Linked DNA regions of Homo sapiens: regions 1 and 2 are each linked to region 3. Evidence: fine-mapped expression QTL. A gene starts in region 3. Each other region holds a variant in brackets. All regions are shown on one strand. Distances are between the middles of the regions.

Region 1 (11,042 bases), 180 kb after region 3:
TTAGCACAAGCAAAACATCCCTTAAAAATAGGGAGTAGAGGCCAGGCGTGGTGGCTCACGCCTGTAATCCCAGCACTTTGGGAAGCCAAGGCGGGCAGATCACAAGGTCAGGAGATCGAGACCATCCTGGCTAACATGTTGAAACCCCATCTCTACTAAAAATGCAAAAACCTTAGCCGGGCGTGGTGGCGGGTGCCTGTAGTCCCAGCTACTCGGGAGGCTGAGGCAGGAGAATGGCGCGAACCCAGGAGGCGGAGCTTGCAGTGAGCGGAGATCGCGCCACTGCACTCCAGTCTGGTTGACAGAGCAAGACTCCGTCTCAAAAAGAAAAAAAAAAATAGGGAATAGAATTTCTGTAGGTCATGGAAGGCTGATGGCTAGCATTGGCCATTCATTTAATCTTTTACCCCTTGAATCTTTTTTGAGCATCTCTTATGTACAGATACTGTTTGAGAATACAGTCTTAAATAAGAGAGTTAAGGCCTCTGTCTCATGCAGCTTACATTTTAGTAGCTAGATTATTATTTTTAAAACCATAAATATGTAATACATTACCCAAAAGAGGTAATCACTATGAAGAAAATAAAAGCAGGGCATAGAATAAGAGAATGACTAGAGTACGATAATATTTAGAAAAGACCTCTCATCTGAGGAGACTTGAATAAAGGAAGTATGGAAAAGAGTATTCCTGGAAGTGGGAACAGCAAGGATATTTCAGAAAGAGGAACAATGCCAATGTGGCTGGAACAGAGTGGGTAAAATGGAGAATAAAATGAGATGAAGTTGGAGAAACAGGAAGACCCTATGTGCTCTGTTGACCAAGCTCAAGCATGTGGATTTGGATATGAGTCGATGGAATGCTATTGGAGGATTTGGGCAGGGATGTGATATCATTAATTCACATTTTTGAAGGATCAGTCTCCATGTTGGGTAAACACGAGACTGAAGAAGGTAGAGACAGGGAGAGGGGACATTGGTACACTCATTAGGGAGCTAGCTTGGTAGTCTAAGAGAGCTGAGAGTGGCTTGAACTAAGTGGTAGGGTGGAGATGGTGAGGAGGGGTTAGACTCACAGTGTGTTTTCAAGTAGAGCTAAGGGTGCTTAATGATAGATGGAATGTGGACTGTAAAGGAAAGGGACTGCATACGGCTTCATAGGTTGGGCACTGACAGCCCCAGAAGGAACTACTCACAGAGACTATGCAGTGAATGGCAGCCCAGGGATGGTACAGAGTGTCAACCCTGGGAAGAATTGAGGATGACTTCTTGGATTTTGATCTCAGCAATCATATGATTGGTGGTGCTGTTTACTGAGATAGGCAAGACTGTGAGGAACAGGTTAGGAGGTGCAGGGGAATCAAGTTCTATTTTGGACATAGTCAATTTGAGGTGTTGGACATCAACAAGGAGATGTCACATAGTGTTGGATGTGTACATGTCAAACTCAGGTGAGATATCAGAGCTGGAGACAAAAAATTGGGAAGAATGAAATATATATATATATTTTAACTATGGGACTGAATGGGAACTTCTCATCAATGAATGCTGAGGGAAAAAAAAGAAGAGCTTTGTGGACTGTATCCTGGATACCCCAAGATTTAAAGATGGAGAAGGAGAGAGGAGCCAAGTGTAGACTGCAAAGAGAGACCCAATTAGCTTTTTTTTTTCTTTTTTTCTTTTTAAGATGAAGTCTCGCTCTGTTGCCCAGTGAAGTCTCGCTCTGTCACCCAGGCTGGAGTGCAGTGGTGTGATCTCAGCTCATTGCAACCTCTGCAACCTGGGTTCAAGTGATTCTCCTTCCTCAGCCTCCTGAGTAGCTGGGATTACAGGCATGTGCCACCACACCCGGCTAATTTTTTGTATTTTTTTTTAGTGGAGACTGGGTTTTGCCATGTTGGCCAGGCTGGTCTCAAACTCCTGACCTCAGGTGATCTGTCCCCTTGACCTCCCAAAGTGCTGGGATTACAGGTGTGAGCCATTGCTCCCGGCCCCATTTAGCTTTTTTAGTCTCCCAGAGGTATGGATGATTTTGGGACTTACTTCAATGGACTGACTTTGCAAAGATGTTTTATATTTTGTTTTAACTCTCTGTGCCCTAGACTTATCCTTTTGAATATGATTCAGTTAAATGAGTGTATATATAGTTTGAATAAAAAAATCTTGTTTTCCATCGTATTTTTTTTATAAGAAGGTAGGGCACAGATAAACATATTTTTAAAATCTCTTTGTTTTCTTCCTTTCCAGTAAGAGCTGTTTGTGACAATAAGAGCTCATGCTTCCATGATGCTTCCTTTTGTGCTTTGATGATGGTCTCGCTGATGGTGGATTTCATTTTTCCCTGCCAGAGATATTACTACTACCAATTATGCAAAGGCTACACTGCCTGGATTCTGGATTCATTTTGGCTACTCTCGTTTCTGTAAACATTTAAGCATAAGATCATTGCTAACGCTCCATGATAGATCTTTCAGCAGGTGGCATGGGTAGACCTACAGCCTAACTGGTAGCTGTGTTTGTTTGTATTATTGTATGTATCCTAGATAGGTAGCTGTAAGGATACATACAAGAAGCTGACTCTTCTTGCTTCTCTATTGACCTCTCTCTTGTCTTGACTTTCCCATTTTGCATGGGAGCTTCATATACTAGAAGATTCATCAAAGAACCTAAGACCCTTCTTTTTGCCAAAGCTAGGGCAGCAAACACCACCTCACAGTGGAATATTTCTTAGTCAATTCAGCAAATATTTATTTTAAGTCACTGTTTAGTTCCTGGGGCTCTAGTTCTGTGCATGTGTTCCCCTGGGCCCTGATAGCATGCTGAGGTGTTTAACACAATTATTAATCGGCTCTGGTCTGCAAGTCAGATGCAATGTTAATTAGCATTACTTCTTTGCCATTGCATCCATACTGGCAATTCAGCTCCATGCCCTTACGCTCCGTGTCCTACTTGTGCTTTCCTTTTCTCCCTTTTAAAAAATAAGCCCAAAACCTGAAAGTATTCAGATATGTTCTCAGCAACAATGCCATAACCTTTTACTATTTAATACCAGCCTGATTGAAAAGCAATTTAGAAGTATCAGTCTTTTTCTGTAGGAATTTCAGTGTTTCTCACTGGGAGTTCTATAGTTAATAAAAGTCAAGTATTAAGCATATAGACTCATTGCCTAGAAGTAGTTGCCTATGTTTCCTAGGTATTGTTTAACAGCCTCTTTTTCTTTTTTTCAACCAGGCCTTCAATGTTATTCTTTATCTGCCGTCACTCTGGCTACAGAGACACTGGGTGTTTTCTGTCTTAGCCCTTTCAAAAGATATTAATTCTTTTCTTCCTGGGGTTTGCCCTTTGTAATTTTTGTAAAAAGGCATCCTGCTAACCTTCTGTAATTATTACTTTTATTTCGTTTTATTTTTTCTGGGAACTATATTTCTGTATCTGTAAGTTTCACCTGGAGGAACAGGTATTTCAAAATTACTTTCTTTTCCTTCCAATAACATTTTATTGTTTGCAGAGATATTTTCATCAGTGATACAGTGAGCACTGCATGAAGTTAATATCATTTTAAATTTAAATGTTTTGCAAACTCTCTTATTTCACATGTCAGGAGAAAACCTTTTGGAGGGTATTCGTGACAAAGAATGCTTGAGGGCTTTGCATTATTAATCACTTCTTTGATCTTGATTTTAAAAATCTGATGAAAGAGTTAGATCTATTACTTCCCCCGGTATTTTCTATGCTGGTTAATAGCATGACCATTTAGCGAGTACCTAACCAGAAAGTTGATAGTCATCCTGGATAACTCCTTCAACCTCACTGCCTACATTCAAATAGACATTAAAGTTCATAGGGTCTTGCCCTCTAATCCATCAATATTGTCCTTTTAATTTCTTCTGCTATTTTCCAGTGTAGGCAATAAGTAATACTTTTTTTCCCTTCAAATTCTTTGTTGATCTCCTAATTGGAACTTCATCCCAGGTAGTCTGGCCTCACCCAAATCATTCTCCACACTATTACCAGATCAATCTGTCCACCACCAATCAGTTTCTGTTACATCTGTGGCTCCACATAGAATAAATTTCAAATCCTTCTTACGGCATGGGAGATTTCCCATGCAACTCCTGCATGTCATGTTGGACTCAGCTTTTGCTACTCTGGGCCTCATATCCTGTGCTCACATCCTTCTACTACAGGAAGATAGAACTAATTTTATTTTCCTGAACATGTCAGCAGCCTAAGATTTTTGGTTCTCTGAATTGAAGCTGCTTACTACGTCCACTGTGACTCCACAGACATCAATCTCAGCCATTATTTGGCATAATAAATGAGGGGTGTGTGAATTAATATTACTTTCATTTGTTTATTAGGATAGATACACATTTTATGTAATGGTTGCAGCCACAGTTATGTGCCTGGAGTGGAGAAGGTCAAATGAGCACAGAGCTGATGTTAATCTGGTGTGTAGCAGTTCATCTGTATCAGTTATTCATATTAACATGCTTCTAATCCAGTTCCTTCGAAGGCTGCTGAGCTATTCCAACCAATCTGACCCTCCCTAGGATCATCTGGATCTCTCTGTAACCCAGGAGCCAAAGAATGAGTGCATAGACTAGAAGGAGACTTCTGGGACCCAAAGAAGGAAAAATCACTCTGGGGTATAAATTACTGAAAACATTACCAGGCCCACAGTTAGTATCTTTAAAAAAACTTTTTTTACATTTATAGATAAAATTACATCTTTACTGTGTACAACATGATGTTTTAAAGTATTAGACATCGTGGAATGACTTAATACAGCTAATTAACATATACATCAGTTCGCATAGTTATCATTTTTGGGTGAGAACACTTTACATCCACTTTCTTAGTATTTTTCAAGAATGCAATAAATTATTGACTATAGTCACCATGCTGTACAGTAGATCACTTGAAATTATTCCTCCTGTCTAACTGAAATTTTGTATCCTTTGACAGACATTTCCTTCTCCTTCCCAATCCCCTCAACTCCTGGTAACCACCTTTCTCCTCTCTAAGTAGAAATAAACTTTTTTTTTAAGATTTCATATATGAGTACGATCATGCAGTATTTATCTTTCTGTGCCTGACTTATTTCATTTAGTGTAATGTCCTCCAGGTTCATCCACGTTGTGACAAGTGACAGGATTTCCTTCGTTTTTAAGGCTGAATAGTATTCTGTTGTATATATAGATAGCACATTTTCTTTATTCATCCATTCATGGACACTTAGGTTGTTTCCATATCTTGGCTATTATGACTAATGCTGCAGTTAACATGGGAGTGCAGATATCTCTTTGACATACTGATTTTGTTTAATTTTAATGTATACCCAGTAGTGGGATTGCTGAATCATATGTAGTCCTACTTGTAATTTTTTGAAGGAACTTCATACTGTTTTCCATAATAGCTATACTTATTTGCATTCCCACCAGCAGTGTGCAAGGGTTCCCATCTCTCCATATTCTTGCCAACACATCTTTTGTCTTTTTGATAATAGTCATTTTAAAAGGCATGAGGTGATCTCATTGTGGTTTTAATTTGTATTTTTCTCTTGATTAGAACTGTTCAGCATTTTTGCATAAATCCTTTGCTATTTGTATGTCTTCTTTTTAAGAAATGTCTATTCAGGTCCTTTGCTCATTTTTCAATTGGGTTGTTTCCTTGCTATTGAGATGTTTGAGTTATTTCTATATTTTGGATATTCACCCAGCATTTTAGGAACTCACATTAGCCAGTTTTATTAATCTTTTAATGGACAGCACTTAGGGTAGTGCTAACGTGGTAGGAGCTTAGTGATTGAGAGCTGTTATGTCAAAAACAGGCC[C/T]TCAAGAAGTCCTCTGCCTGCCGAGGAGTCTGTACATAGGCTACAATCCTTCACCACATGTGACGCAGAGAGTAGTCGCCTCCTGGTCCAGATTTCTCCTTCTTATTTCTTTCATCTTTTATGATTTAATCTCTCTTTTATCTTTTTATCTATTTAATCTTTTGCCATTATCTTATAATGCTTTCATTAGCACTGAGATGTGTTTCATGTGTCAGGGCCCCCACTTCTATTTGCTGGCAATTTTATTCTTTCCTAATGTGACTGCTTCAAGTTAAGTGCAGAATCTTTGCCCAGCAAATTGTTAAGTAAGCTTTATGATCTTCCATAATTTCCACAGAGCCCCTTCTGCCAATTGTATTCTCTATGTGGGACTGGTGTCACGATTTTCTAGGTACTGTAGCATACTATATGTCTCTATCTCAAGAACTCTTTCCTTTGGACCACTGCCCTGTGCCTGCCCACAGCGTATTCTCTTTCTGCTAGTGTTGTTACAGTAGGATGATATGGGTATTTTCAATTCTGTTTCTTTTATTGGAGTAATTTCTTATTTGGGGGTGGAAATGTGGCTGCCTTTATACTTAGACCATTTGAGGGCTGAAGCTTAAGGAGTTTCCTTCTAAATCCTTTCAAGCTCCAAATCCTGTGGGCAACATGTCCTCATATGCAAAATCTGCTATAGAGCTGTCACCAGAAATTTTGCTTTGTAGTTTCCCAACATAGTTCTCTTTCTCTAAATCAGGGTTTCTCAACTTCAGCTATAGCGACATTTTGGGCTAGATAATCCTTTCTTTGTGAGGGGTCTGTCCAGTGCATTTTAAGATATTTGGCAACATCCTTGGCCTCTACCCACTAAATGCCAGTAGAAACTGCATAGTTTTGACAAGTAAAAATGTCTGCAGGCATTTTTGCCAAATGTTTTCTCTTGGGGGCCAAATCACCCCCGCCCCCAATGAGAACTGACACTCTCAATAATAAACATTCGGACATAAATTGACAAGTTATAAAATATGTTGACAAGCAAAGCAAAAACATTCATGATAAGGACAGCAAATGCTTATAGAGCACTTATGTGGGCCAGACACTGTTTTAAAAGCTCTTTCCATGTAAGTTTCCAAGCCCATAGAGTGACCGTACCATTTTACCATTATTATTTACACTGTATAGATGAGGAAACTAAGGCACAGAAAGGCCATATAGCTTGTCCAAAGTCATGCAGCTCATAAGTGTCAGATCAAGAATTTAAACTCCGGCACTGCGACCCTGGAGTCTGTGATTTGAACTCACTGTGTTTCTCTTTCAACAAAAATTCGTTGGAATAGGTATCTATATGGCATTGCATGCAATATCACGTCTGATAGTTACTAAATTAATGTTTGTTAAGTGAATAAATGAATGACTATACATCCAGGAAATTACTTATTATTTTACATCAGCATTGAATAGATTCTTTAGTTAATTTAAATGAAAAATGCACTTTTCTTTGGATATAACCGACTAAATATTAACATTAGAGTAAGGCAAGAGGGTCTTAGCATTTCTAAGCCTATGCACAAGAATCTCTTGGAGAGGGTTTGCCAAGGTGACCTTTAAAATCTCTTCTAATCAGAGCTTTTATTTATTTGCTAGGACAGTTTTACAATATGTCAGAATGAAGATTGGCCAAACTGAACAAAATATTATTTCCCTGATGAGATTAAGCAAAGTATCTGCCTTGCCCTGTAATAAGGGAAAACTGAATTTATCCTCCCCCTTAAACTAGGCATACACTCTGATGAGGTATTAAATATTATATGATAGTTTAACCAAGTTCAGGAATTATAAAAAATTAAGCATCTTTAAGTAACAGGAAACCACTTTAGCTGATCAATCTTCAGGCTTCCGTAGTTGGCCTTCTATAGTGAATGAGAGGGCTGGGGTCTCAAATTTGTTATAAGTGCATTACATCTGATTTATATCAAAGTGAGAAACTATTTTATGTAACACTACAGTATTACTCTATTGAATGTGAGTTTTAGTCAATTGGAAATATTTATATAGTACATATATATTTTTATATATACACATACATATGTACATATATGTATATGTATATATTCAATAAGAAACTCAGTATATTTGTTTTCCATTTTTCTGGCGTGCAAACAAAACTTTTTTTAGGAAGAATTTTCATTAAATTAAAAAATTTCCTTGACTTCATTACTAATTAAAACATTATAAAGGATTTTTCTAGGAGCTTTATTTTTTAGGTAATTTTCCCTACTGCAGAGATCACACATCAAATTCTGAGTGATCATCGTTTTGTGATTCATGTATTTTAGATAACATATAATATTGGACATTTCTTAGTGTTTTTCATTATTTCTATGAGGAACAGTAACACTTAATTCACGCAAATTTGAGAAAAGAAACACGACAGTGTAAAAAAGTTAAATGGTCTATTTTTTTGCAAAATTGGTTTTTATTCCCTTCATTTACATATATAGCTCATTGTGAGCAATAAGGGAAAGATAAACTATAATGTCTTAGAGAATGTTGTACGTCTTTAAATAAATAGATGAGAACTATTTATTATTAGAATGGTCGTAGTTTGAAGAGAAAATGTTGCAGATGTAGTTGTTCAAAACTTCATGTTGATTTCATGTTTAAGTACAGAGAATTTTATACCCTGTTGAAGTTTGAAGAACTAACCAGAATCTGACCCCGAAAGTCCTGAGGACTAAAGGCTATGACTCATGCTAAACCCATGCAAATGTCCATATGTGAATTCATTTGCCCATCTTTATGCCTTTCAAAGTCAGCAAGGTAAAAGTCTTCAAGTCAGGCTGACTTATTCTTCTTAGCTTAAAACATAGGTCACTTCATACTTTATTACTGAGGTTTCCAACAAATAGTTCTTGGGGACTTTTTCTGTTCATCATTCAAGAGGAACCTTTATGTGTGTCTGAAGTTCGCTGAGATGCCTGGTGAGTGAGAAGTACAGTTCGGATTTCCCATTTCCCCCTTTTTCTTCTTTTCAGTACTTGATTTTCACTCTTCTTTCCTCCTCACAAATTTTTGAAATACTTCGTTTTCTGAAAAACCCTACACTATTACCTCTATAGAAGTTTCCAGAGTTTTCAAGGAATAAAAACTATTGACTAGTACAGTTATAGCGAAACTTAAAGAGACTCAGTGATTCATACTTCTTCATATTCTTTTATGATTTCTGTGAGTACTTACCACAGAGTAAGTAATCTATAATTTACTTCTCACACAATGGGAGTGTTAGGGTCATTCAGGGATTCTTTTTCACAAACTTGGAATTTTAGAAAACTACAGAAAACAAAACTAAGTGAAACAGAATTCCTCAGAAAATAGGAAGTGACGATCTTAAGACTGTTTGGAATTGTTCTCCCAATTAGTGACCAGAATCTGAGTTCCACCATTTTGAGCCCCCAAGTTGCCAGAAACAAGTTTAACGACTGAATTACTGAAGGCTTCTTACGTTTTATGAAACTGTCTTCAGCAAACACTGTAATTGGTGATTGTAGGCCCTGCGAAACACTAAGCCTTCATTAGTGTATAAATACCATTTTGATGTAGTTTATTTGAAAGTTAATGATGATGGCTGGCCCAGAACACACTTTTCTATATACCTAGATTAAAAAAATATATATGCTGACATGGGGAGAAAATTAATTAATCCTGGTTCTAAAAGAGTGCCTTTTCCTTTAAAATGGTTATATCATCAGTTTATTCTTCCACAAAGATCTGGCCCCTGTTTATTGTTCCCCCTTATGAGATTAATAATACTATAAAATACATATTTAATATATTTTAAAGGAACATTTTATAATACTTAAAGTATAGCTATTGTTTTATGTAGTATCTACTTTCTGAAAGTTGGAAATTATTGTGAGTTCTCTACATAGTAGCTAAATGGCGCTCATGCCAGCTGGCTTCTAAGTTGGCATAGATCCTACCTTAGATTTCATGGGTATGATGATAAGCTTTGTTACAATGGAGAGGAATTGGGATTTAGCCTTGCTACACATTAAGAAAGAATGAAAGTAGAATGCCTATATGTTTTACTCAGTTGTTAAATCCAAAAAGGATAAGATCTGAGAGGTGCATGTTATGGAAATAATCAAATTCAGATACTAGATCTCCTTATTTGTAAAAATAATTATAAAATTTGCATTACTCATTAATGATCATCTCAGAAATAGAATTATGCAGATTGGGGTGGGAGGTGAGTATTAAGCTGTGAATCATGTTATAAATTTTTGGAGATAATTCTTTTGATGATGGAAACAAATTAGACACTACACATGGACTAATTATCAAAAGAGCAATGTTCAAATTAATGTTGCTATGATGAAATTATCATTATGACCCAAGTGCAAATATATAATTGCCTCTGTTATACGTGAGAAGTAGAGTATGTGTGACTTATTTTTATAGGTCACTGGTGCCAATTTAATAGGTTCAGAAAAGAGTTTTGTGAGTACCAACTACTGGTCATTATTTCTTCTCTTTCTTACTTCACTTAAGACCATGGTGCATTTTCTTTTTTCAACCTCCAAAAGTTAGAGAAGAGTGAAAATTGGACCAGTACTATTCAGATATAGGCCGCTAACTTCAAAAAAAATGAATTGATGAGAATTAAAATTTTATGTTCTTATTTTCAGTCTTCTAAAGTCAACCTCAACATTTAGACACTAGAATTTTGGGACCATTTTGCGTATTTTCCATAATTAAAATTATTAAATTATTAAAATTATTTTCTTATTCCTTGGGACATTATATTCTTAGTTATAGGTCTCTGTGAAAGTTGGCAGGAGAGGAAATCATGTTCTAATAAGTTCATTTTGTTTCTGATCATTTTAATAGGATTATACAGTTTGGTGATGGAAAAAGCTAAAATTAAGGACTTTTTTCTTTTCAATTATGTGATGCCTCTAGTTCTAATAAATACATAAAAATTTAGTTAACTTATGAATACAAAGTTTGATGATTATGTAGATTTTTCTATGTAAAATATTTATTTTAATGCAGTGATGACCTTTTAGCTCATTACATTCTCTTCAACATGCAGAAATTTTGTTAAAAATTTGATGCAGTTTTAATTTTCTCAGTATTATTGAATATGTATACCCAAATTTCACTTCTTAACAAAAGGGCATAGTGCTCCCAATTGTATTTCAAATAACTTTTGTTAAGTTCTGAA
Region 2 (11,042 bases), 64 kb after region 3:
TTTGATTTGATTTTTGAAAATGGTGAAAGATTGAAGTCTAGTTTTATTCTTCTGCAAGTGGATATCCAGGTTTCCCAGCACAATTTATTGAAAAGACTGTCCTTTCTGTGTTGTTTTTTTTTCTCTTGATGTTTTTAGGATCTTTTCTTCATATGTGATCTTTGGGTATTTAGTTATTAAATGCCTTGAAGTAATCTTCTTTGGGTTAAATCTGCTTGGTATTCTATAACCTTCTTGTACTTGAATATTGATATCTTTGTCTATGTTTGAGAAGTTCTCTGTTATTAACCCTTTGAATAAACTTTCTACCCCTGTTTCTTTCTGTACCTCCTCTTTAAAGCCAATAACTCTTAGGTTTGCCCTTTTGAAGCTATTTTCCAGATGTTGTAGGAGTGCTTCATTTTTTTTCTTTTTTTCTTTTTTCTCTTCCGTGTGTTTTCAAATAGCCTGTCTTCCAGCTTGCTAGTTCTTTCCACTCCTTGATCAATTCTGCTATTAAGACACTCTGATGCGTTCTTCAGTATGTCAGTTGCATTTTTCAATTCCAGAATTTCTGCTTGATTCTTTTTATTTATTTCAATTTCTTTGTTAAATTTATCTGATAGAATTTTGAATTACCTTTCTGTGTTATCTTGAATTTTTTTGAGTTTTCTGAAAACAGCTATTTTGAATTCTGTGTCTGAAAGGTCACATATCTTTATCTCTCCAGGCTTGGCCCCTGGTTCCTTATTTAGTTTGTTCAGTGAGGTCATGTTTTCCTGCAGGATCTTGATGTTTGTAGATGTTCGACATCTGGGCATTGAAGAGAAGATATTTACTGTAGTCTTCACAGTCTGGACTTGTTTGTACCTATCCTTCTTAGGAAGGCTTTCCAGGTATTTGAAGGGACCTTGGTATTTTGATTTTGGTCACTGCAGCTGTGTCTGCATTAGGGGACACCCCAAGCCCAGTGATACCATAGTTCTTGCAGACTCATAGAGGTATTGCCTTGGTGGTCTTGGATAAGTTCTAGAATAATTCTCTGGATTACCAGGCAAGATCTTTGTTCTCCTGCCTTACTTTGTCTCCAACAAATAGAGTCTCTCTCTCTTTCTTTCTTTACTAAAGCCAGCACAGTACTGGGTCTTGCCTAAGGCCCACTATAACCACTACCTGTCTACTGCCTATGTTCACTCAAGACACTAGGGCTCTACAATCAGCAGGTGGTAAATCCAGCTACTCTTGTGTCTTTCCCTTTAGGGCAGAAAATTCCCTTGGGCTCTAGGCAGGTTCAGAGATGTCTGGGAGTCAGGGCCTGGAGTTGGAAACCATAGAAATCTACCTGGTGCTCTATTCTGCAGCTAAACTGGCCCTGAAACCACAAGACAAAGTTTCTGCCACTCTTCCCTCCCCTTGCGCCAGCAGAGGAATCACTGCCTATGCCTACCACCACTGCAGGCCCGTGGGAAGTACTGCCAGGGTACCACTGACAATTCACTTAAGGTACAAGTGCCTTTCAGTCAACTTGTGCTGAATGCTTCTAGGCCTGGGACTCTCCTTTCAGGGACTTAGGCTCCCTTCTGACCCAGCGTAGGTACAGAAGTGCCATCCAAAAGCCAAAGCCTGGAACCAGGGACCCTAAGAGACTGCAGGATCCTCTCCCCTACTGTGGATAAGCTGGTACCTAGGCTGTAAGACACAGTCTCCTCTGTTTTTCCCTTTCCTTTCTCAAGCAGAAGGAGGCTCTCTGCAGTCTGAATATGCTGTGAATATGCTGGGTCACATTGGAAGCCAGCACATCTGAGTCTCACCCAAGGCCCACAGTGTGTATTACTTGGTTACTGCTGCTAATTATTCAGGGCTCAAGGGCTTCTTTAGTCAGCAAGTGATGAATCCTGCCAGGATTGAGTCTTTCCTTTGAAGCAGTGGGTTCCCTTCTGGCCAAGGGTGTTTCTAGAAATGTTATCTGAAAGCTAGGGCCTGGAATGGGGGCCTCACAACTCTGCCGGATTCCCTGTTCTACTGTGGCTGAGCTGGTATCCAACTTTCAGAACAAAGTCCTGTTTACTCTTCCTTCTCCTCTCCTCAAGCAGAAGGAAGCGGTCTCTTTTGGAGCTGCAAGCTGTGCTGCCTGTGCTTGTAGAGGGGTGACAGAAGCACTCCCTTAGCCACCCTGACTGGTGTCTCACTAGGTCATGTGCCCCACAAGTCCACTGGCTGTGAGCCCAGCACAGCACTAGGACATGCCCAGGAGTTGCAGTCCTTGTGGTTTAGACAGCCTTTCAAGTTTATTTAGAATCCCACAGTACTTTAGCCTGCAGTGGTGAGGCTTGCTGAAACTCAAGTTCCACCAGCTGGGATGGGTGATTCCCTTCTTTCCAGGGCTGGTCTAAATGCTCCCTCTATGAGCACCAGCTGAATTCTGCCCAGTGTTGGCAGCACTGAATTCCAAAATCCTGCAGTTGCCTGCTCTACCTCCCACAAGCCCACAGATTCCCTCCTCATGCCACATGGCCTCTGCCAGGGGATGGAGGAGGGGGTGGCCTCAGCAATTCAAGACTATCTTTCCTATCTTCTTCAGTGCCTCTTTCAGTGATATTAAGTTAAAACCAGCTACTGTGATTGCTTCCCTGATTTTTGGTTCTTATGAAGTTGCTTTTTTGCATAGATAGTTGTCACATTTGGTGTTCTGCAAGGGGGACCACTGGTGGAGGCTTCTATTTGGCCATTTACTCTGCCTTTCTCTTCCTGCCCATTTTTAAATTGGGTTGTGCTGTGGTTTGAATATGCCCTTCCCAAAATTCAAGTGTTGCCAATGTGATGGTATTAGGAGGTGGGGTCTCTAAGAGGTGAGACCTCTTAATAGCCATGAGGCTATTAAGGCCCTTATAAAAGAGGCTTCATATAGCATTTGGGCAGCTTGCCCTTCTGCCATGTGTGGATGTATCAAGAAGGCCTTCACCAGACCAAATGCCATCTCCTTGATCTTGAACTTCCCAGTTTCCAGAACTGGGAGAAATAAATTTTTATTCTGTATAAATTACCGAGTCTCAGGTATTCTGTTATAGCAGCTGAAAACGTACTAAGACAAGTTATTTGGCTCGCTGCAACCTCCACCTCCTGGGTTCAAGTGATTCTCCTGCCTCAGCCTCCCAAGTAGCTGGGATTACAGGCATGTGCCACCATCCCTGGCTAATTTTTTGTATTTAGTGGAGACAGGGTTTCACCATGTTGGTCAGGCAGGTCTTGAACTCCTGACCTCAGGTGATCCACCTGCCTCAGCCTCCCAAAGTGCTGGGATTATAGGAGTGAGCCACCACGCCCGGCCCAAGTTATTTGTCTCTAATGTTTGAGTTATAGAAGTTCTTAATATAATCTAGATACAAGTTGCTTATCAAATATGACTTGCAAGTACATTTTATCATTCTGTGGATTGTCTTATTACATTCCTGATAATGTCCTTTGAAGCATAAAAACATTTTTTGGTGAAATCCAGTTTTTATTTGCTTATGCTTTTGGTGTCATATCTAAAAAAAAAACCCCACATAATCAAAAGTCATGAAGATTTATGCCTATGTTTTCTTCTAAAAGTTTTATAGTTTTACCTGTTACTTTTAAGATCTTTGGTCCATTTTGAGTTAACTTTTGTATATGGTATGAGGTAGAGTTCCAACTTGATTCTTTTTTTGTGGATATCCAGTTGTTCTGGCACCATTTGTTGAAAAGACTGTCCTTTCTCCATTGAATTGCCTTGACACTGTTTTTGAAAATCATATGACCATAAATGAGAGGTTTTATTTCTGACTCAATTATATTTAGTTGACCTGTATGTTTATAATTAGCTTAGGTTTGAACATCTTATTTTCCAATGCACAGATTTCTTTTATTGATCTTTTCTTTAAAATAAAATAAAGAGCTAAAATTTCACTTGTTGGATAGGTTTCTACCCTGTTTCAGAGGTTGATGGTTTCAGGACTTTTTACTTCTGGCTTCATGGTTTGAAAATATATTTATTTTGAGAAAGGACAGTTCATTCCAATCATCCTTACAATCCAAGTATGTGTGAAGTTCTTGAAGGAGTTGTGATTATTATAATTTTCAACATTTTTCTATGAAAATTCATAAGATTTTCACTCAATGATATTTTTATTATGAAGATTCAGATGTTTTGCACTCTAAATCATGTCCCCTCAAAATGTGGTTATGCTATAGTGCAGGTTCTGCCCAGGAACCAAGACTGTCCTGGATATGTGTAAAGAAAGTGATTGCCCTACGTTAGTAGTGTAATTTGAAGGTAACCAGAACACAGTGGTCACTAGGGCTCTCTTGATATTGGGTTGCAATGAAAATATGTTGCTTGAGAAGAGTAATAGTAACCCTCTCATATCCAGTGATAGTGAATGAAGAGAAATTTAAAGTTTATTTTAATACTTATCTAGATTGCAGACATGGGTCTTTTTTTTTATTCCTGGGGGAAAGAAGAAACACACTTGAAAGATATATTTTCCTTCTGCAATTTTTCCCCTGTATACATCATGCAACTGGCACTTTTCATAGGAGGTTGTTCTGCAATCTTAAAGTAACTGGAGTGTTTTCCTCTAGCTCATTGAGACCATTTAGGCTTTTAATGCAATAGGAGCTCACAGAGCAAAATGGGGTCCTTGAAGCCACCTTGTTTAAAGTTGAAGTGTTTCATTTGAGTGTTTCCAAACTATGTCTTATTTTGAAGGCAACTGATAAAAGTGGCTCCTTTGTGCTTTGATAAAAATGTGAAATGGAAAAGACTAGGCCATGAAAAAA[C/T]ATAAACCTGTAAAAAGATATCATAAGGGATATGAGGGACACAGAAGATAGATGATATATTTTTCCTTCTAATACAATTTTATAAAATACTGCCTTGTTTAATTCTCTCCTTTAGATCACAGGACAAAGAAAAGAATACATTGATTCAAATAAACAAGTGGAAAATTTGAGGATATTGGAATTGGGGCCAATCTTTTGCTGGTACTATAAGCTATTTAGAGAGGCCCAAGCCATTCAGAGAGAAAAGATAGAGTGCTATCAAAATGCTCCAGTGTACAATGGGGAGCAGGGAGACTTGTCAGGGGCCCCATGCTTTACCTGCTCTGCTCAGAGTCACAGAACTTTATCTTTCTCTCTCACTGGATCATTTCAGAAAGTGACAGGGGATATAAGTGATATTACCCGGATGGCTATTTCTAGATGTCTCAATTTCTGGAAGTTAGGATATGTCATTGTGATAAATGCTTCTGCTCTCTGAATATTCCATAGAAACATTGGCGCTAGAGAAAGAATATTCTGCCAGCCATCAGGAAGGATGATAGATTTAGGATGGAAGATGTATTCTGGGGTTGGCTGGCTCTGGAACGGTCTCCCTTGGTTGGGTCTCCAGCCTTGCTTACTTCTGTTATGGGGAAGCCCTGGCATCGTAACCAGGGGCCAAGTGGAGCGGTGTACTCAGATGCTCCTTGTACCAGTATGGCCTGCCCTCACAGAGACAGGGAAGCAGACAGGCCCTTGGTGTCTACCCACCTCCCTTCCTGTGCTGTCTTCTCTGCCTTGTGGCTGGCCTATCTCCGGAGGCCTCAGTTTCCACTCAAAGTCCCTGGCATCCTAGGGCTCCCACTGTGGCAATTGACTCAGTCCTGCCTGGGGTGCTTCTGTTTTAACAAGTGGCTTCCGACAAGGCAGAGGCTCAACACAAACGTAGCAATTTCAGGCAATAGTGGAAGTCAGAGTGAGGAGTTAGGGCATGGTAATTGTAAATAACAGTGGAGACAATAGTAAGTTCATTTTTATCAAGCACTTTACGTGGCAGGGCTGAGCTGAGTGCCACCTACATGATTTCAGTGTCAGGACACTGGTCTGAACTGGGTTTCATTAGAATCCTCATGGTGAGGAAGCCTGAAGAGGGAAGGTCACTGGCCAAGGTCATATGGATATTGATTAGAAAAAATGAGAATTCATGTCAGATAGTATGATGCCAAAATCCATACCCTTAGCTACCATAGTTGTCCTAAAGAGCATATCAGGGAAGTGCCTGTATTGGCAAGAACAGATGGGGTTCTAGAAAAGGTTAGGGCGGGACTGTGACCTTCAGTCAAGGAATGAATGCAGCCCAAGATGACAATGGAGGGAGGAAGTCCAGGAATAAATAGCAGGACCTTCTCTCTTCTTCTGTCTAATATCCTGCAGATGCTTGCCAGTGACTGAGCCCAGTGGGAAGCTAGCGGTCTGGACAATCCATTGCTGTAACTCATATAGATCAGAGCTGCTGGAACAAGGGGAGGAAGTGGCTGTCACTATAGGAGCAGGGCCGCCAGACATGAGCTCTGCCTTAGGCAGAGGGATGTACCAATGCCAGACCACAGACTGCATTTGGGAAAGAGGAGGAAACTCCCTTTACTTTCTGTCTTTCTTTGCTCCCATCCCTTGCCAGGGACACTTATTGGCCATGCCCAGTGAGATGCTAGAAGGCAGGGAAGCTGGTTTGATGCAGCCTCCTGGAGTACAGAGCAGGAGGGTAGAGTGAATCTGAAGAAGCACATGAAAACAATCCCATACAGGGCCTATATGTGAATCTGTCCCTGAAGAACAGCCTCAGAAGACACACTGTGGAAGCTTTGAGGTCACTGGGTCATTGGTCAGCAGCTTTATTTAGATCAGCTGCCTTTGCGTATGCAGCATCTTTCATTGACACAGAAACTTGACCTTGTTACATATCAGTTTTCTCTGAGCCTTCACGAAGTAGCTTTTATCAATTTTCTTTGCCTTCTAAGTAAAAGCCAGCAAATTTGCAGAGGGGCTGGTCTCCCCACATCTGGTTATCTGTATATTTTGCAAATTCTTGACCTTGAGTGGTCCTGGCATGTAGTTATTCCTCTGTGTCTACACCTGGGCCCTGGGGCATTTGTGTCCTTCAGATGCCCCTTCCTCTGATAAACTTTCTGAAGGTTCAGCATTTTCTGTGTCCCATTAAAATTTAATTTGCTGTAACATTGCCAGGCCCTGCCATAGCTATATTTAAATGGCTTCATTGCCTCATTCTTTGCATTGCCTCTGCTTTTGAGGATCTTGAAATGGTAAATGTCTTCAGTTGTGCCAGCAGCCATGAAGGGCAGGCAGGGGCTTTGTAGATGATATCTGTGTACTTATAGGTTTTGCTCCTCTAAAACGTGTAAGCAAGGACTGTGAGGTTATTGTGAGAGTGAAGGGCATGGGAGGAGCATTTGGGTACAGCAGGAAGCATTTGAAAACAAATGTTAATTCATTTAAGAGTTTGGTGCCTGTTTAATTTTTGGTAAGCCCACTTAAAATATAGTAAGATTTTAAGTTGGAGTGCTTTTCCAAGCATGAGCAATAAAAATGTGCCCTGGACCCTATGCTGTAATTGGCACAGAGACTGTAGTGGAGTTTTACCCTTTGTACCCAAGCCTGTGTCTCTGCAACCTTTGGAAAATATTCTTAGTTTGAAGTTAGAAAACAAAGTAAACTGTCTGCTTGAACATTGTTGAAAAAGTTATTGTACTAGCCTATCAAGGATAAGATGATACAAACCAGGTCAGGGGAAAGAAGTTAGGAAATGCCTAGTGACATCTGTATGGTAGTCGGCTTACCTAGGGTAGAAGCTCAGTGAGAGAGAGAGTCGGGAGAATAGGAGGAGACAAGGGCAGGACATTTTGGGTTTCCTGAGAAGCAGTGGTTGGCAATTTCTCTCCTGAGTTTCCAGAAATGACATATTATAGGAAGGGTTGCAATGTGATTCAAATTGCTAATGTGTGCTTCTTGAAAAAATATCAAACCACTCCCCCAAATTGAGGTATTTGGTTAATAAACAATCAAGTCTCTGTTCATTGAGTTATCATTTGTCATTGCTAGAGTTGATCTATTGAACTAGAGCAAATTGGGGAATATTAGAAGTACATTTGAAAGACTTTGGATACAGTTGTCTCTTACTGTAAATGTCATCTTTTTTTTCTTTCTGTCATATTCCCAGTACCCCTCTCTGACCTCTCTTCTTTGCTATTTTGTCTTTCATTCGAGTCCCTTTCTATTTACTCTTTTTCCTTCCATTTTAGTTTAGTTCTGTCTTTTGTGTGTCTGTGTTTTCCATTCATTTTATACGTTTCTGGTCTGACACTTTATTACCTAGTGTTGTCTGTGCTGTATGTTTCATCAGTTCTTTCCTCCCCCAGAGGTATCTCCTGGGATCTATAAATAGTACTGCAACAATGTGTTGGTGAACTTTGGGTGAACAAAGGGTATGGGTCGCTTTAGACCTTTCTTAAGGCAGCCCTGTGTTGAGGGCTCTGTTTTCTCCTGTAGGCAGCAAATCCTTTGTGAGCCCAAGTTTGCCCAGTGCCTGGTATATATTAGGTGCTTAGTGAATATTTGTTGAACACATGGATGTATTATCTGAAAATGTTGGGCCCATATGAGTGGAAAATAAGGGTTGCTGTTTGGGAAAAAGTTGACGAGTTTCATGTGAGTTTTCCTCTGGGAATAGTGGCCTTGCCAGTTTGGTTGCTGTTTAGTCTTGACACTTTCTTCTACAAATGCTTATTTTCTGTGGGTTCTGCTGTTTCTTTTTCCTTCTCTATTAATAAATATTGTTTGTATCATGTTGCAACCTCCTCTTTGGCTTAACCTCCCTTGGTCTGTGTTGGTGGTGGCAGGGTCTGTTTGCTCCTTCCTTCATTGCTGTCTCAGTGGCAGCTCCTTTCTTCTTCTTTACCTGCTCTGCCTCTTCTTGCTGTTCCTGTTCTTATTATTGGGACTCCTTGTCTACTCTCCCTTCTTTGGTCCTTTTACTGATTTTTTTTTTGCCTTCTTGAGCATCATGGGGCTTGGTCTTTTTAGGATAAGGACCAGGAAGCTCTGCTGCACTACTCCAGGATGGGCACTGGAAGTGAAAAGAACCCTGAACAAGTGGAATGCCCGTAGCAGGAGAGAAGGTGGCTGATTTCTTTTTTTTCCTTTGTGTTTATTTTATTTTATTATTATTATACTTTAAGTTTTAGGGTACATGTGCACAACGTGCAGGTTTGTCGGATAGTCTGTGCTATTCAGTTTGACCTAGTCTTTTATGTCTCTGTGGGCTTCATCCCCTCATAGTTTCCCTGGCTGTATCATCAACTATTTTTTTTTTTTTTTGAAATGGACTCACACTGTCCCCGGGGTTGGAGTGCAATGGCTCAATCTTGGCTCACTGCATCCTCTGCCTCCCAGGTTCAAGCGATTCTCCTGCCTCAGCCTCCCGAGTAGCTGGAATTACAGGTGCCTGCCACCATGCCCAGCTAATTTTTTGTATTTTTAGTAGAGACAGGGTTTCCCTGTGTTGGCCAGGCTGGTATCGAATACCTGACCTTGTGATCCACCTGCCTCGGCCTCTCAAAGTGCTGGGATTATAGGCGTGAGCCACTGCGCCTGACCTCATCAACTATTTTTTAAGTACTTAACTAGGCCAGGTATTGTAGGGTCAATGACAGGGAAACTCAGCCTGCTTCTGTGGAGCTTAGGCTCTCATGGGGGTGTGTCAGATGTTAATCAAATAACGTAAAATTGCAGCTGTGAAAATGCATAGTACGTAAAAGGAGAATTGCACTATGATCAGGCTGCTCTGGGTATTTTTTTTTTAGGTTTATTATACTTTAAGTTCTGGGATACGTGTGCAGAATGTGCAGGTTTGTTACATAGGTATACACGTGCCATGGTGGTTTGCTGCACCCATCAACCCGTCATCTACATTAGGTATTTCTCCTAATGTTATCCCTCCTCGGGCCCCCCCGCCCAACCGACAGGCCCCAGTGTGTGATGTTCCCCTCCCTGTGTCCATGTGTTCTCGTTGCTCAACTCCCACCTATGAGTGAGAACATGTGGTGTTTGGTTTTCTGTTCTTGTGTTAGTTTGCTGAGAATGATGGTTTCCAGCTTCATCCATGTCCCTGCAAAGGACATGAATTCATCCCTCGGTATTTTTAAAAGCCTTTTATACTACTCGGGAGGCTGAGGCAGGAGAATCACTTGAACTGGGGAGGCGGAGGTTGCAGTAAGCCAAGATCGCGCCACTGCACTCCAGTCTGGGTGACAAAGCAAGACTCCATCTCAAAATAAATAAATAAATAAATAAATAACAAAAAAAGTAAAATATACAGACAGAAGAAGACTGTTCTTATTATAGGTGTATAGCTCAGCAAACTTGCACAAACTCAACACTCCTGTGTAGCTTTCACTCACATTAAGAAACAGAATTTTACCAGCACCCAGAAGCCCCCTCTTGTTTTCTTCAAGTCCCTACGCCCATCAAGGATAAACTGTGATTGAAACTTCTAACACCATAAGCTGCTTTAGAGATTTTTGTCTAGAGCAAGAGACTAGAAAAGATTCTTGAGGAAAGTATTGCCTGAGCTGAGAGCTGAAGAATGAGTAGGACAGGAGCTAGGGTGAAGATCAAGGGAAGAGTTTCCAGGCAAGAGATCTCATGGGAGGGAGCAGGAAGCATGTAAAGAACAAGAAGACCAGAGCGGGTTGGAAAGAGAAGGGCTCCTAGTACAGTATGTGGTAGGGTCTCCTGAGCCATAGTACAGGTTTCATCTCATCCTAAAAGCAGCTGAGTTAGGGAGGGGAGAATTAAATTTGAATTTGAAAGAGATCACTCAGAGAGGAGAATGGATTGAATAGGGGTCAGGGTGAATAAGAGAAGACTAGTTAAAAAAGTTATTGCAATATTCTAAGCTGGAGAGGAGGTGGCCTAGTCAAGGCTGATGGTAGCAATGCATAGAAGAGAGTGGATTCAAGAGATGTTTCGGAGCAAAGATTGATAGGACTTATTGATGGATTAGCCATAGAGACCAACAGGAAGAAGTGTCAGGGATGATTTCTAAGTTTCTGCTTGAAAACATGCAAGAATGGGGATGCCAGTTGCTGAGATTGTGTGCTAGCTTAAATAAAATGTTTCCTCACAATGTAGATTTGGGACAAAGGACAGGTGTGATTGGTTTTGTGCCCATCTGAGTGGACATTGGCTTTGATGGCTATGAGTCATGA
Region 3 (11,042 bases):
CTTAGTCCATTTATTCTGCTATAAGAAAATACCTTAGACTAGGTACTTTATAAATATTAGAAATGTATGTCTCATATTTCTGGGGGCTGGGAAGTCCAAGATCAAGAGTCCAGTAGATTCAGTGTCTGGTGAAGGCTCACTCTCTGCTTCACAGACGGCCCCTCTTACTGTGTCCTCACATGGTGGAAAGGCAAAAGGGGCAAAAAGGGACAAATGCTGTTTCCCCATCCGGTAGAAGAGAAGGGTGGGCAAAAAGGGACAAACTTGCTCTCTCAAGTCCTTTTATAAGGGCACTAATCCCATCCATGAGGGCAGAGCCCTCACAGCCTAATCACCTTCCCAAGGCCCCCTCTTAATGCCATTACCTTAAGGTTTAAGTTTCAACATATGAATATCGGAGGGACACATGTTCAAGCCAAAGCAGATACCAAAGTAAATGAGAGACAGAAAACATTATAGGGTCTATAATTGAAGATGAGACCCTTCTCCCCCTCCCTCCCTCCCTTCCTCTCTTTTCTGCCTTACTAAAAATGCCAGCAGTAACTTGCAAAGATACATACACATAAGGTTAAAAAGAAGAAACTGTGAGGGAGAAATTTGAAAGTGAGAAAATGATGGAAGTCAGGTTAGTCAACAGATTACATTCCTTAAGTTTTCTCTAAATTATTGAAGGTGGGCCACAAATTTAGATCTAACTTCCTAGAAGCCAGCACAAAGAGGAATACATAACCAATTGCAAAATTCAGTGTCCATAGGATGAAAATTATGTAGTTCCCCCAAAGAACCACAGGGATTAGGTGCAGTTTTTATAAGGTATTATGGGATGTCGTGAGCAATGTCCTCAGTAACATCCCTAATGGCACCAAGGAGTTTTGTAGAGCATGACAAAAATTTGTATGGTTTGGAGAAAGCAGAAAAGAGATAATATTAAATCCTGGCCGGAGCTAAACCCTTTTGTTGGGATTGGACTGGATTAGTTTGAGCCTCTGCTTATATTTTCCTGTAATTCAGCATTCTATTTTAGGTACTGCACTAGGGGTATGCACTGGAGGTTATGGGAGTGGAGAGGGACACTCACCTTTGCCTCTGCCAGGGAAATGTGGGCTGATGCCAGCACTCTGGATAAGATGATGCCTTTTGAAGGATCTGGTTGGAAGTTATTCAGAAGGATAAGGCAAGGAAGGCATTTCATGCATGAGAAAAGAGCATCAGTGTGGTACGGAGGTATATTGAATGCTGACAGGGAGCTACAAGGCAGTTTAGAACTGAAAAAGTATGAAATATGAGGCAGGCAAAGTATGGTAGGAGTTGGAGCTGAAAAAGTAAGCAAGCATCAGACTGTGTCCATCTTACATGCTCTGCTAAGAAATGTAGCTTCACTCCACAGAAAGGTGCTGAGATGCCCCCAAAGGGATTTAGGCAGGGGAGTTGTATCTGCTAACTATTGCATTAGTAATGCTGCACAATAAATCTCCCCAAAAGTCGGTAGCTTAAACAACAGTCTTGTTTTCTCACACACAGATCTGTGAGTCTGTGAGCATAGCTCTGCTTCATGCTGCAGATCTTCAGGTTGGCTGGGGTGGCTGAGTGTGTGGCTCAGACTGAAGGAACAGCAGCTACCCAAGGTTAGCTCTTCTCCTGGTGAAGCGTGGAAAGAACAGACGGGTGAGTGGGCAGACAGACGCCTTTTGAGACCTCTTCAGAGAAGGGGTACACTGTCAGGTGCACACACATGCGTTAGTACAGCAAGTCATATGCTTGCAATATGATTTTCAATACCAGTAGGGAGGGGAGAAAAACTGCCCCCTGTAGGGGAGGTGCTACAACATCACATGGTGGAAGGTGATGTTAATTTTTTTTTTTTTTTTTTTTTGAGACAGAGTCTCGCTATGCCGTCAGGCTGGAGTGCAGTGGTGCTATCTTGGCTCACTGCAAGCTCCGCCTCCTGGGTTCACGCCATTCTCCCACCTCAGCCTCCCGAGTAGCTGGGACTACAGGTACCCGACACCACGCCCGGCTAATATTTTGTATTTTTAGTAGAGACGGGGTTTCACCGTGTTATCCAGGGTGGTCTAGATCTCCTGATCTCGTGATCCACCCGCCTTGGCCTCCCAAAGAGCTGGGATTACAGGCGTGAGCCACCACACCTGGCCGATGTTAATTAATTTTGTAGGGAGGTTGTGAAAAATTATCAGCAATAATTCAATCTGTCTCAGGGGTAAAGTAGCTAGACTTGACTTTTTGAGATGATTCACTTGGGAAGTTGTGTGGAAAGCAGATTCGAGAGAGGTGATGCAGTAGTCAGAGGGACCAGTGAGAAGGGCCAGGTGAGACTTAGTGAGAACCTAGGCTGAGTAACAGTGAGCTGGGGGGAAATAGAGTTGACTGAAGAAAATTATATGATATAAAACCATCAGGACTAAAGACGTAGGGTCATTTATGGCTGGTTTTCAGAAATCTCCATTTAATATACCCAACTTAAAACACTGTCCTAGCTTCCCTTGCAGCTGGGAGGTGATTATATGGTAAGCTCTGCCTATTAGAACATAAACAAAATTCACTGGGTCAATTACCAGGATTTTTTTTTTTTTTTTTGAGACAGGGTCTCACTCTTTCGACCAGAGTGGAGTGCAGTGGCACGATCCTGGCTCACCACAACCTCCGCGTCCCAGGCTCAAGCGATTCTCCTGCCTCAGCCTCCCGATAGCTGGGATTATAGGCACGCACCACCATGCCCAGCTAATTTTTGTATTTTTAGTAAAGATGGGGTTTCACCATATTGGCCAGGCTGGTCTTGAATTCCTGACCTCAAATGATCCACCTGCATCGGACGCCCAAAGTGCTGGGATTACAGTTATGAGCCACCGCCCCCGGCCACCAGGAAAAGTTTTTAAAGGGGCATGTGCCCCTTTGCAGTTGTTATTACCTTCTTCCTGCCTTACACGTAGCTGGATGGCTAGAGTTCCACCAACCATGTTATGGACACGAGGCAATCATCCCAAAGGGGACTGAGCTGAGAGAAGGAGCCTAAGATTTTGACGACCTCATGAAGATACCATACCAGCCCTCAGCTGCCTCTCTTTAGAATACCAGGTAGGTGAGAAAAAATAAATGACTTTTTTAAAGTGACTGTTTTTTGAGTTTCTGTTTTTAGCAGTCAAATGAAGCTCCTGACACCATACATGACCTTAGCAACATGAAGCAACATTATTCATTCATGCAGATAATTATTATTCTGAATCAATGACCAAAATTAGAAACATGAAAACCTTAAGGTGATCTAGCTCAACTGTAATCCACTGCTAGTGTATATAATTTGTGGAGACTTTTTTTTTTTTTTTGGCTTTCCTTCTTCCTTGTCTTCCCAACACAAGTCTAATTTTTCCTCTCAGCCATCTCTCTGATTTCTCATATCTATTTGGTGTTAACTGATCAGAGGGAGTTAGCAGAGAAGGGGGCTGGCTGTTTCATTTTAGAATACGACTCTTGAAGAACCCGTGATGGAGGAATAAACAGAAGTCCTGGTTCCTATTTCTAGACAAGAGGCTGCCCAATGTAATATGTAATATCAGTAATAGTAAGGTTGCATTTCTGTAGGGTGGCTCGATCAAGCGCTTCTTGTATACCATATCATTAGCTGCCCGAGGGCCAGTAAGGTCGGATGGTTTGTTCAAGGACAAGAACTAACAAGTAACAGAGATAGGACTTATCTTTTTCTGACCTTCACTTTCCCTTTCTGTGACAAAACTGGTCTTAGGAACTGTGTTGAGCAGAGCCTTCTGTGGGCGTGAGAGCGGCTTGGAGGTGTCAAAGAAAAATTGCATCCGATATAGTTAAACAGACAAGGGGGAATTATTCAAGGCTATTGCAATAGGGAAGAGAGAGAGGGAGGGAGAGGGGAACTAGTAGAAGACTAGTGGAGGAGATTAGGATGGGAAGTTGGTCAGTGTAATGAGGCCATTTGTGTTTCCTAATTGGAACTTATTAAAGTTAGGCTCCTCCTCTCCACAAACACTAGGAGATAGGGACCCTTTTTTCCTTGATGATTACATTTCAAAGGGATGCCTCACAGATCCCTGAGAAAGATCCCCAGGCTGTAAAACCCAGCAAGAGGCGGAGAGATTTACATGTCAAAGGGTCAGAGGAAACATTCACCAATGGAAGTTGGCTAAAGTAAATGCTCTGAGAAAAGGAAGGTCTGGGGCCTACAGTTAGGAAGAAACCTGTCTAAAGTTTAGTTAAGCTGAGGGGAATGTTAAGGCCATTTGGTCACCGTAAGCAGTACCACATTTCCTTGCCTCTCCCGGGAGCCAGGTCTCAGTGTCCCCAATAGGGGACACGCACTGACCGGCGGGTGAAGGGACTGATTTTGATTATCATCCTACCAGATAGAGATTATTCCCTCTGCACCCGGGTTAACTGAAACCCGGTGGGGGTAGATCCTTGCCATTTTCCGGCCCTGTACCCCACTGGAAATAACATGCGGTGGTCAAGGGCATCCACCTCTTTAGGCAAAAGCATGTTTTCAGCCCAGAGACGATTCCACCCAACTTTACAAGAGGATAGCCCAAAGATAGAAGCCAGGGACTCAGACTTCCTCCTTCCAGAAATAACCATCATAAAAAAGCCGACCCAGTAAACGCCTGGCAGCCTGCGGCATAGAAGAAAATGGAAATCTCCTTGGCTGGCATTTCAGCTTGCCTGAGGGGGCTTGCTTTGCTCCGAGGGGAGGTGACTGTGCTGACCTTAAAATCCAGGTTTCAGGAAGCAGGAGATGAAGGTATTTTATTTTCGCCTAAAGGCTTTGATATTTTTCAAATAAAAATTTAAAAGATCCAGTACCTTCTCCCGAAGCTTCTTCATAGAGTAGTGGATTTTTAGAAAACACAAAGGCCTAGGGGTGGGGCGAGAGTGGGGGGTGGGGATGGGTAGCCCCATAAGAGCAGTGCCCTGACGCCTCTTTTCGCCCTTTTCAGACCATTTGGATTTTCTTAAGCTGCCCCTTTCCCCAACCCCCGTTTTTGCCATTTGCCTCTCCTCCCATTCTCCAAAGTGCAAATAACTGGTTATCCCTCAGGTCCTGCTACCCCATCTTTCCTGATCCCCGATCCCTCCAAATACGAAGCACCTCGCATTTGGGTCAGCAGCTGTTTCCCCTGCCTGGTGACAAGGCCGGTGTGCAGAGGGCAGAGGAGGGAGCTTCTTCCGCCACACGGTGGCGCGCGCGAGCCTCCCAAAGACCGGGCGGCCACAGCTCCTCACCTTCTCCCCATTCCAGCCCCACCCGCCCGGGCGCAGAAAGAGCCGCGCCCCCAGCCCTCCCGGGCAGGACAGCCGGGAGCGCACCTCGAGGGCCCGGGCAGCGGTCGAGTGGCAGCTGCGTCCAGCCCATGCGGGAGCTGCTGCGGGTTACGGGTGGCCCCAGCTCCAGGCTCCTCCTCCAGCCGGTCCCCCACCCTCCACCCCTTCTCGACTCCGCTCTGCAAATCGAAGGCTTTCCGGAGCAGCCTAGGAGCGGCCGCGGGCGCAGCGAAGGCGGCAGGAGGAGCGCAGCAGCCTTCGGGCAGCCGCGGCGGCGTCGCTAGAGCAGCCGGGGAGGCGCCGCGGTGCCCGGCGCGCCCTCCAAGCTAGGAGAGGGGAGAAGCCGGGGGCTGCAGCTGGGCAAGGGGGAGGAAAGTGCGTGTGCGTGCACGCCTGTGTGCAGGGCAGAGAGTGCGGGGGGCGACAGTCTCGGCTTAGGGCGGAGGAGAGGGCAGGGGAACGGCGGTGCAGCTCCCCCGCTGTCCCCGAGGATTTCCCGCGGCAGCCCCGGGCTCCCCAGTGCCCCTCACCATGGACTTGCGCGGAGTTGGGACGGGCCTCGGCAGCAGCAAGCGGCTGGCTGCCGGGCCCTGGGGGAGCGCGGGCGCGCGCGCGGGGATGGCGAGGTAGGATGGCCACCCAGCGCGACCCCCGCCGCCCCAACCCAGCGGCCCCTGGGCGGTGCCGCTGACTCGCCGGAGCGCACAGGGGTGTGGGCGGAGGCGGCCTCGCCGCGCCCGCGCCTTCGGGAGTCGCCTCGCCTCTTCCACCCACTTGCACCTGCCACCCCGCGGATACCATGTCGAAGGCGGCCGGAGGCGCGGCGGCGGCTGCGGCGGCGGCGGAAAGTTGTTCCCCAGCCCCGGCCGGCTCGTCCGCGGCCCCGCCCGCGCCGGTGGAGGACCTGTCCAAAGTGTCGGACGAGGAGCTGCTGCAGTGGAGCAAGGAGGAGCTGATCCGCAGCCTGCGGCGCGCCGAGGCGGAGAAGGTGAGCGCGATGCTGGACCACAGCAACCTCATCCGCGAGGTGAACCGCCGCCTGCAGCTGCACCTCGGCGAGATCCGCGGCCTCAAGGTGAGCGCGGGCCAGGTGGGGAGGCGCGGCGCGGCTGGGAGCGGGGTGCCCCGAGGAGGAGGCGGGGCCAGGCAAACTTTCCCTCCCTCCCTCAACAGGTGACCCTCCCCTTCTCCCGGTCGGCACCCCCTACCCCCAGTCCCCAGCCCCTGTGTAACTTTTCCAAACTTCGGAGGCGTCTGCTCCCCTCCTCTCCCCAACACGGGGCGCTCCACTGTCTGGCTGTTCGGGGAGGCGCTGAGGACGCTGGAAAGCAGGGAGGGAGGTGAAGGGCACGCGAACCTTTCATTTCTTAGGGAGGCTGGAAAATCTGTGCCTGGGGAGCCGGGTTTCAGTCAGTTAGGCGGAAAGGCCAGTGAGGGGGTGAATCCAGGGGATCTTCGCCTTGGAGGGTCGGGAATGCGGCTGCTCTGGGCCAGCAGCTCTTGGGCGGGCAGAGGGCGAGGAAAGGGCGCCACTGCCAGGGAGAGCGGCTGGCGGGGCGCCCGGGAGAAGCAGCGGGCGCCACCCTCAGAGCAGTCTTGTGTCACCGGGTACATAGGAGTTCAAGCTCTGCCTTCACGTCTTCTCCCAATTCCTGTGCTTTCCCTCTCCCGGAGTTTGGAAGGCATCCCCTGGAGTTGCCTTACTCCCCTTCCCACTTAACCCCAGGTTGACTGGGGGAAAGAGGAGGAGCAAAGAGACTCAGTATGGAAGGAGCAGCATTTTGACAGAGTACCCCAAGTGTTGGTCAGTGATGGTTTCTTTCTGAGCCAGCCCCCCTGCCACCCTCTTCTAGGAAAAGAAGGGAAACGTACCCCAAGCCCACTAACTTTCTTTTCTCCTTGGAGAGCGCCGGGTCTGCGAGGAGTGTGCCTGCCCAGCTGCAGTACACTAGTGGCCGGGAACCGCCCTGCTGGCGAGCACCACAAACTTCCTCTCCTTCCAGCTAGCGCTGGTGCCTCCTGGTATTCCTTCCTCTCATTGTTCTGCTTTGTTTGTAGGAAGCCAGACACAAACGAAATCACTGCAGGGACTTCAGGGAGCAAATTCCCGAAGGCACAAGCTGTTCTTTTCCCCTTTCCACTCCTATCCCCACATATCAGACAGTAGATGCTGTTCCGGAATTGCCTCAGTGCTCCAGCTCTGGGATTCTGGGGCAAGAAAGAGTGGGAAGAGTGGAATGCTCAAGGCTCACCTATGTGCTGGGCCCAGTTCAGGTGGAGATGGCCGTCTCCCGAGGCCGAAAGTCATTGTCATATAGTCCCTAGAGTGGGTGCAGGTAGGAAGATTCCTCCAGTCAGAAAAATGCCAAGGCTTACTCTCTCCTGTGGTTGAATTCATTACTAACAGAGTGTTTATTAAGTGCCAGTCTCTTTGGGGAATAGAGGCAGGCTAGTGTAGTAGGAAGATGATCTCAGAGGTGGGTTTGAATTCTAGAAACCTCATTTGCCAGGAGGGTGAGCTTGGGTAATTACTTTCTCAGATCCTCCTTTTATTCACCAATACAATGCAATGATAATAACTTTCTGAGGGTGTTATGGCAATAAGTTATGATTATGTAGGGGAAGGTTTAATACTTGACTATAAAATGGTAGTTACTGTCATCAGGAAAGGACTTACAAATCTATGGCTGTGTGTCCCCAAGATTTTGGTTTCTTAGGCAGAGCTGGACAAGGGGGCATTAGTTTGTCATCCTCTAATTTGAGTTTCTTCCATGGTCTGAACAATAGTGTGATTTAGAAGAGTTGGAAGAGTTATTATTAAATGTTTTAATAGTATGGAGCATCAAAATAATAGCTCAGAAACACTTGAAAGTTCCTTTAGGTTATGTGGATTGACTGTGTGTGATGTCTGTGTGTGGGTAGGGGAGGGGAATGGTAGAGTGGGTTGGTAGAGTGCCTGGGCTTCATTCCAGTAGCTTCATGTAGAGAAGTAGCTATTAGGTCAGCTAAAGGCCCGTACACCCAAGTAAGAAAGTCTCCTTGTGATCTAGATTCATGACCTGGCATTAAAAGACTTGCCAGTCTACTTCCTTATCAAGTTCAGAAATGATGGGGGCAGGTTGCTTTCTGATGCAGCTTCTACTCTTCTCATGTCATCCCTGGGCTGCTGCAAGGAGCGGACTCCCAGGCTTCTGGCCCACCCTGGGTGTGCTGTGGTTTTACTCTTTGGAGAGGCCAGCCTTCTCCCTTCTCTTTTTTATTTTGGCTCAGAGCTTCCTTGGACACCATAGTAATCCATAAATGTGGTTGATTGAATAAATGATGGGTACATATATTTATTTTGGCTTAACTGGAAGAAAAGAAGTATTTTTTTTTGTTAAGGGCGTGGGGGAGCGTCTGAGGGCTTGGCATTCTCAGTTGAGAACTATAAATGTAGGGGAATTAAGACCATAATACATTTTCTTTTTTATGCCTCTTTCTATGAGCTGACTTTGAAATTGCATCTAAATATTTGTAAGGCTACCAGGTGTTATTGTAGCTGTGGACACAGGAGATGGCAGCATCAGTTCTTTACTTTTCAGGGGCCTGTGGCCGGGTCCTAGCACTGATTGACTTGTTTGTGTTTAGATATTTGGGAGGCAGGGCAGTGCAGGGGCCCTGAGAAGTGGAAAGATAAAGAATTTGGATTCTGATAATTTGGGCAGCTTTGGCCAATTGTTAAACTCTCTGTCTCTCGGTTTTCTCATCTGCTCATGGGGATTTTAATTCCACATGAGGTTTTATGAGGATGAAATATACCATAGATGAAGAAACCCCAGTGAAGTTAGATAGTTTTCTCAAGGTCACACAGACATAAAGTGTTCAAAATCGGCCTGCTTTCCTTTTCTTTTGGCTAGTTGACATTCTTTGCTTAGAATGTGTGGTCCTGGAAGGGGTGGATGAGGGAGATTCTAGTTAGGGTTATGTTGTAAGGAACTGGATTCCTGAGAACCATGTCTTTGGACTGCTGAGCATATACCAACACTTCAGGCTGCTCTGACCCAGTATCCCAGTTGGGGGCTGATTCGGGATGAATCTCTGTAGATTTGTTTTCTTCATTGCATTAATTTCCCTCCTTGGTTCCTAACCCAACCACCGACCCGCCCACCACCCTGCTCTGCAGTGAAGCAAAATAACAAATTAAAACAATTATTTAACTGTAGATACAGTACTTGATAGTCTTCAGGCATAAGATTGAAATTTTGGTTGGTGTGCTACGAAGTGGACTTAACCTTTTAAAAGTCCACTTAGACACTTGGATAATTTCTGGTGGCCGGTGGCAATGTTAAAAGGACACCTAGTGTTTTGCAAAAGAAAGCCCAAGTCTTAGTGAGGCAGATTTGAAGAAGCTGGATCACAAGGTTATTATCAAGCTGGCTGCTTAGCTGTTCATCAGAAGGCAAAGGAAATAGCTCAGAACTGAATAGTAAATAATATTCTCAAGAAAACTAATAATAGAAAGAGGGAACTGTGATATAGAAATGGGAGTGGGCCAATACTCACTCCTATCTACTCCATCTGGAGTGCTGAGAAGTGTATGTTTCACTCCTTTTGGAAAAGGCATTAGCTCCGTGAAGCCGAGGGTAGCACCAGTCCTGTTTACTTTCCAGCTCTAGAGAAATCAGAAGTAGCTGTAGCATAGTCAAAGGGAAGTATTTTCCTATGAAAATTTGTTTAGATGAAAGAGAACATGACTTGAGCTTTCTATCAAATGCCAGGATTAAACTAAATGTTGAATAATTTTTGGAGCTTAGAAAGATTAATTTTCTTTGTTATTGTTTTCTCCAAATATCCACAGCTTCTGATTTCCTGTAAAGCATCAGTATCAAGGGATAGTTTATTTTCTTACTACTGTAGGCTCTGACATAGCTAGTGCTTGCTGAAAACAATAAGAAATTCTTCTCAGTAGCTATAGCTGTAGCCTGTTTTGGCCAGAGGCCTGGAGCTTTATATGGTTGATCAGTCCATAAACACATATTGAGTGTCCACTGTATGCAAGGCACCATGCCAGATATGTTGCATATTCAAAGAAAGACTTTTGGAATAGACCCTGCTCTCCAGAAGCTAAGATGTCCACATTAGAAAGGAGAAAAAATTGATGTCTAGTGATTGTTCTAGCTAGAGTGTGATACAGGCCTTAAACAGTGAGTGGGAAAGTTACTTCATTCATTCATTCATGGGTACTTTTCTGTGCCGGGGGAAACTTCTCAGAGGAATCTCTCCTCTTAGGTTCATATGGGGTAGAAGATGATATTTTCTAGTTGGAATGCACAGACGTAATCATAGCTCATAATTAGCTGGCAACTAAAGGTGGAAAGGCAAGGGACAGCCTTTCAGGCCTGGCTGAGGGTCTTATTCATTTTCCCTGGCAAAGGAAAGGTGATGGGGATTGATAAACAGGAGAGGCAAAACATGCACGGGGTATTTTTGGTGTTTTTTTTTTTTTTTGAGACAAGGTCTCACTCTGTTGCCCAGGCTGTAGTGTATCGTGATCTTGGCTCACTGCAGCCTCCTCCTCCCTGGTTCAAGCAATTCTCCTGCCTCAGGTTCCTGGGTACCTGGGATTACAGGCACGTGTCACCATGCTTGGCTAATTTTTGTATTTTTAGTAGAGACAGGTTTCACCACGTTGGCCAGACTGGTCTTGAACTCCTGACCTCAAGTGATCTGCCCACCTCGGCCTCCCAAAGTGTTGGGATTAC

Evidence for each region. PIP is the estimated chance that this variant, and not a neighbour inherited with it, causes the effect.
Region 1: its variant is the best candidate, but not a certain one, in a credible set for the expression of CCDC85A in blood mononuclear cells (TOPMed, PIP 0.81).
Region 2: its variant is the best candidate, but not a certain one, in a credible set for the expression of CCDC85A in thyroid (GTEx, PIP 0.65).

What each region holds. Positions count from the first base shown.
Region 1 is chr2:56,360,933-56,371,974 of GRCh38, forward strand. All of the region lies in intron 3 of CCDC85A (coiled-coil domain containing 85A), which reads left to right. Among named protein-coding and RNA genes, the nearest start is that of CCDC85A, 180 kb to the left of the region's middle. The variant C/T (reference allele first, on the strand shown) is at 5,834.
Region 2 is chr2:56,242,917-56,253,958 of GRCh38, forward strand. All of the region lies in intron 2 of CCDC85A (coiled-coil domain containing 85A), which reads left to right. Among named protein-coding and RNA genes, the nearest start is that of CCDC85A, 64 kb to the left of the region's middle. The variant C/T (reference allele first, on the strand shown) is at 4,780.
Region 3 is chr2:56,178,525-56,189,566 of GRCh38, forward strand. CCDC85A (coiled-coil domain containing 85A) reads left to right here and starts at 5,466. Exons shown (of 6, transcript NM_001080433.2): 1 at 5,466-6,376. The coding sequence starts at 6,101. It overlaps LOC100129434 (a long non-coding RNA gene), which reads right to left and starts at 7,246. Exons shown (of 3, transcript NR_125368.1): 1 at 7,174-7,246. RefSeq lists a silencer at 5,136-5,465.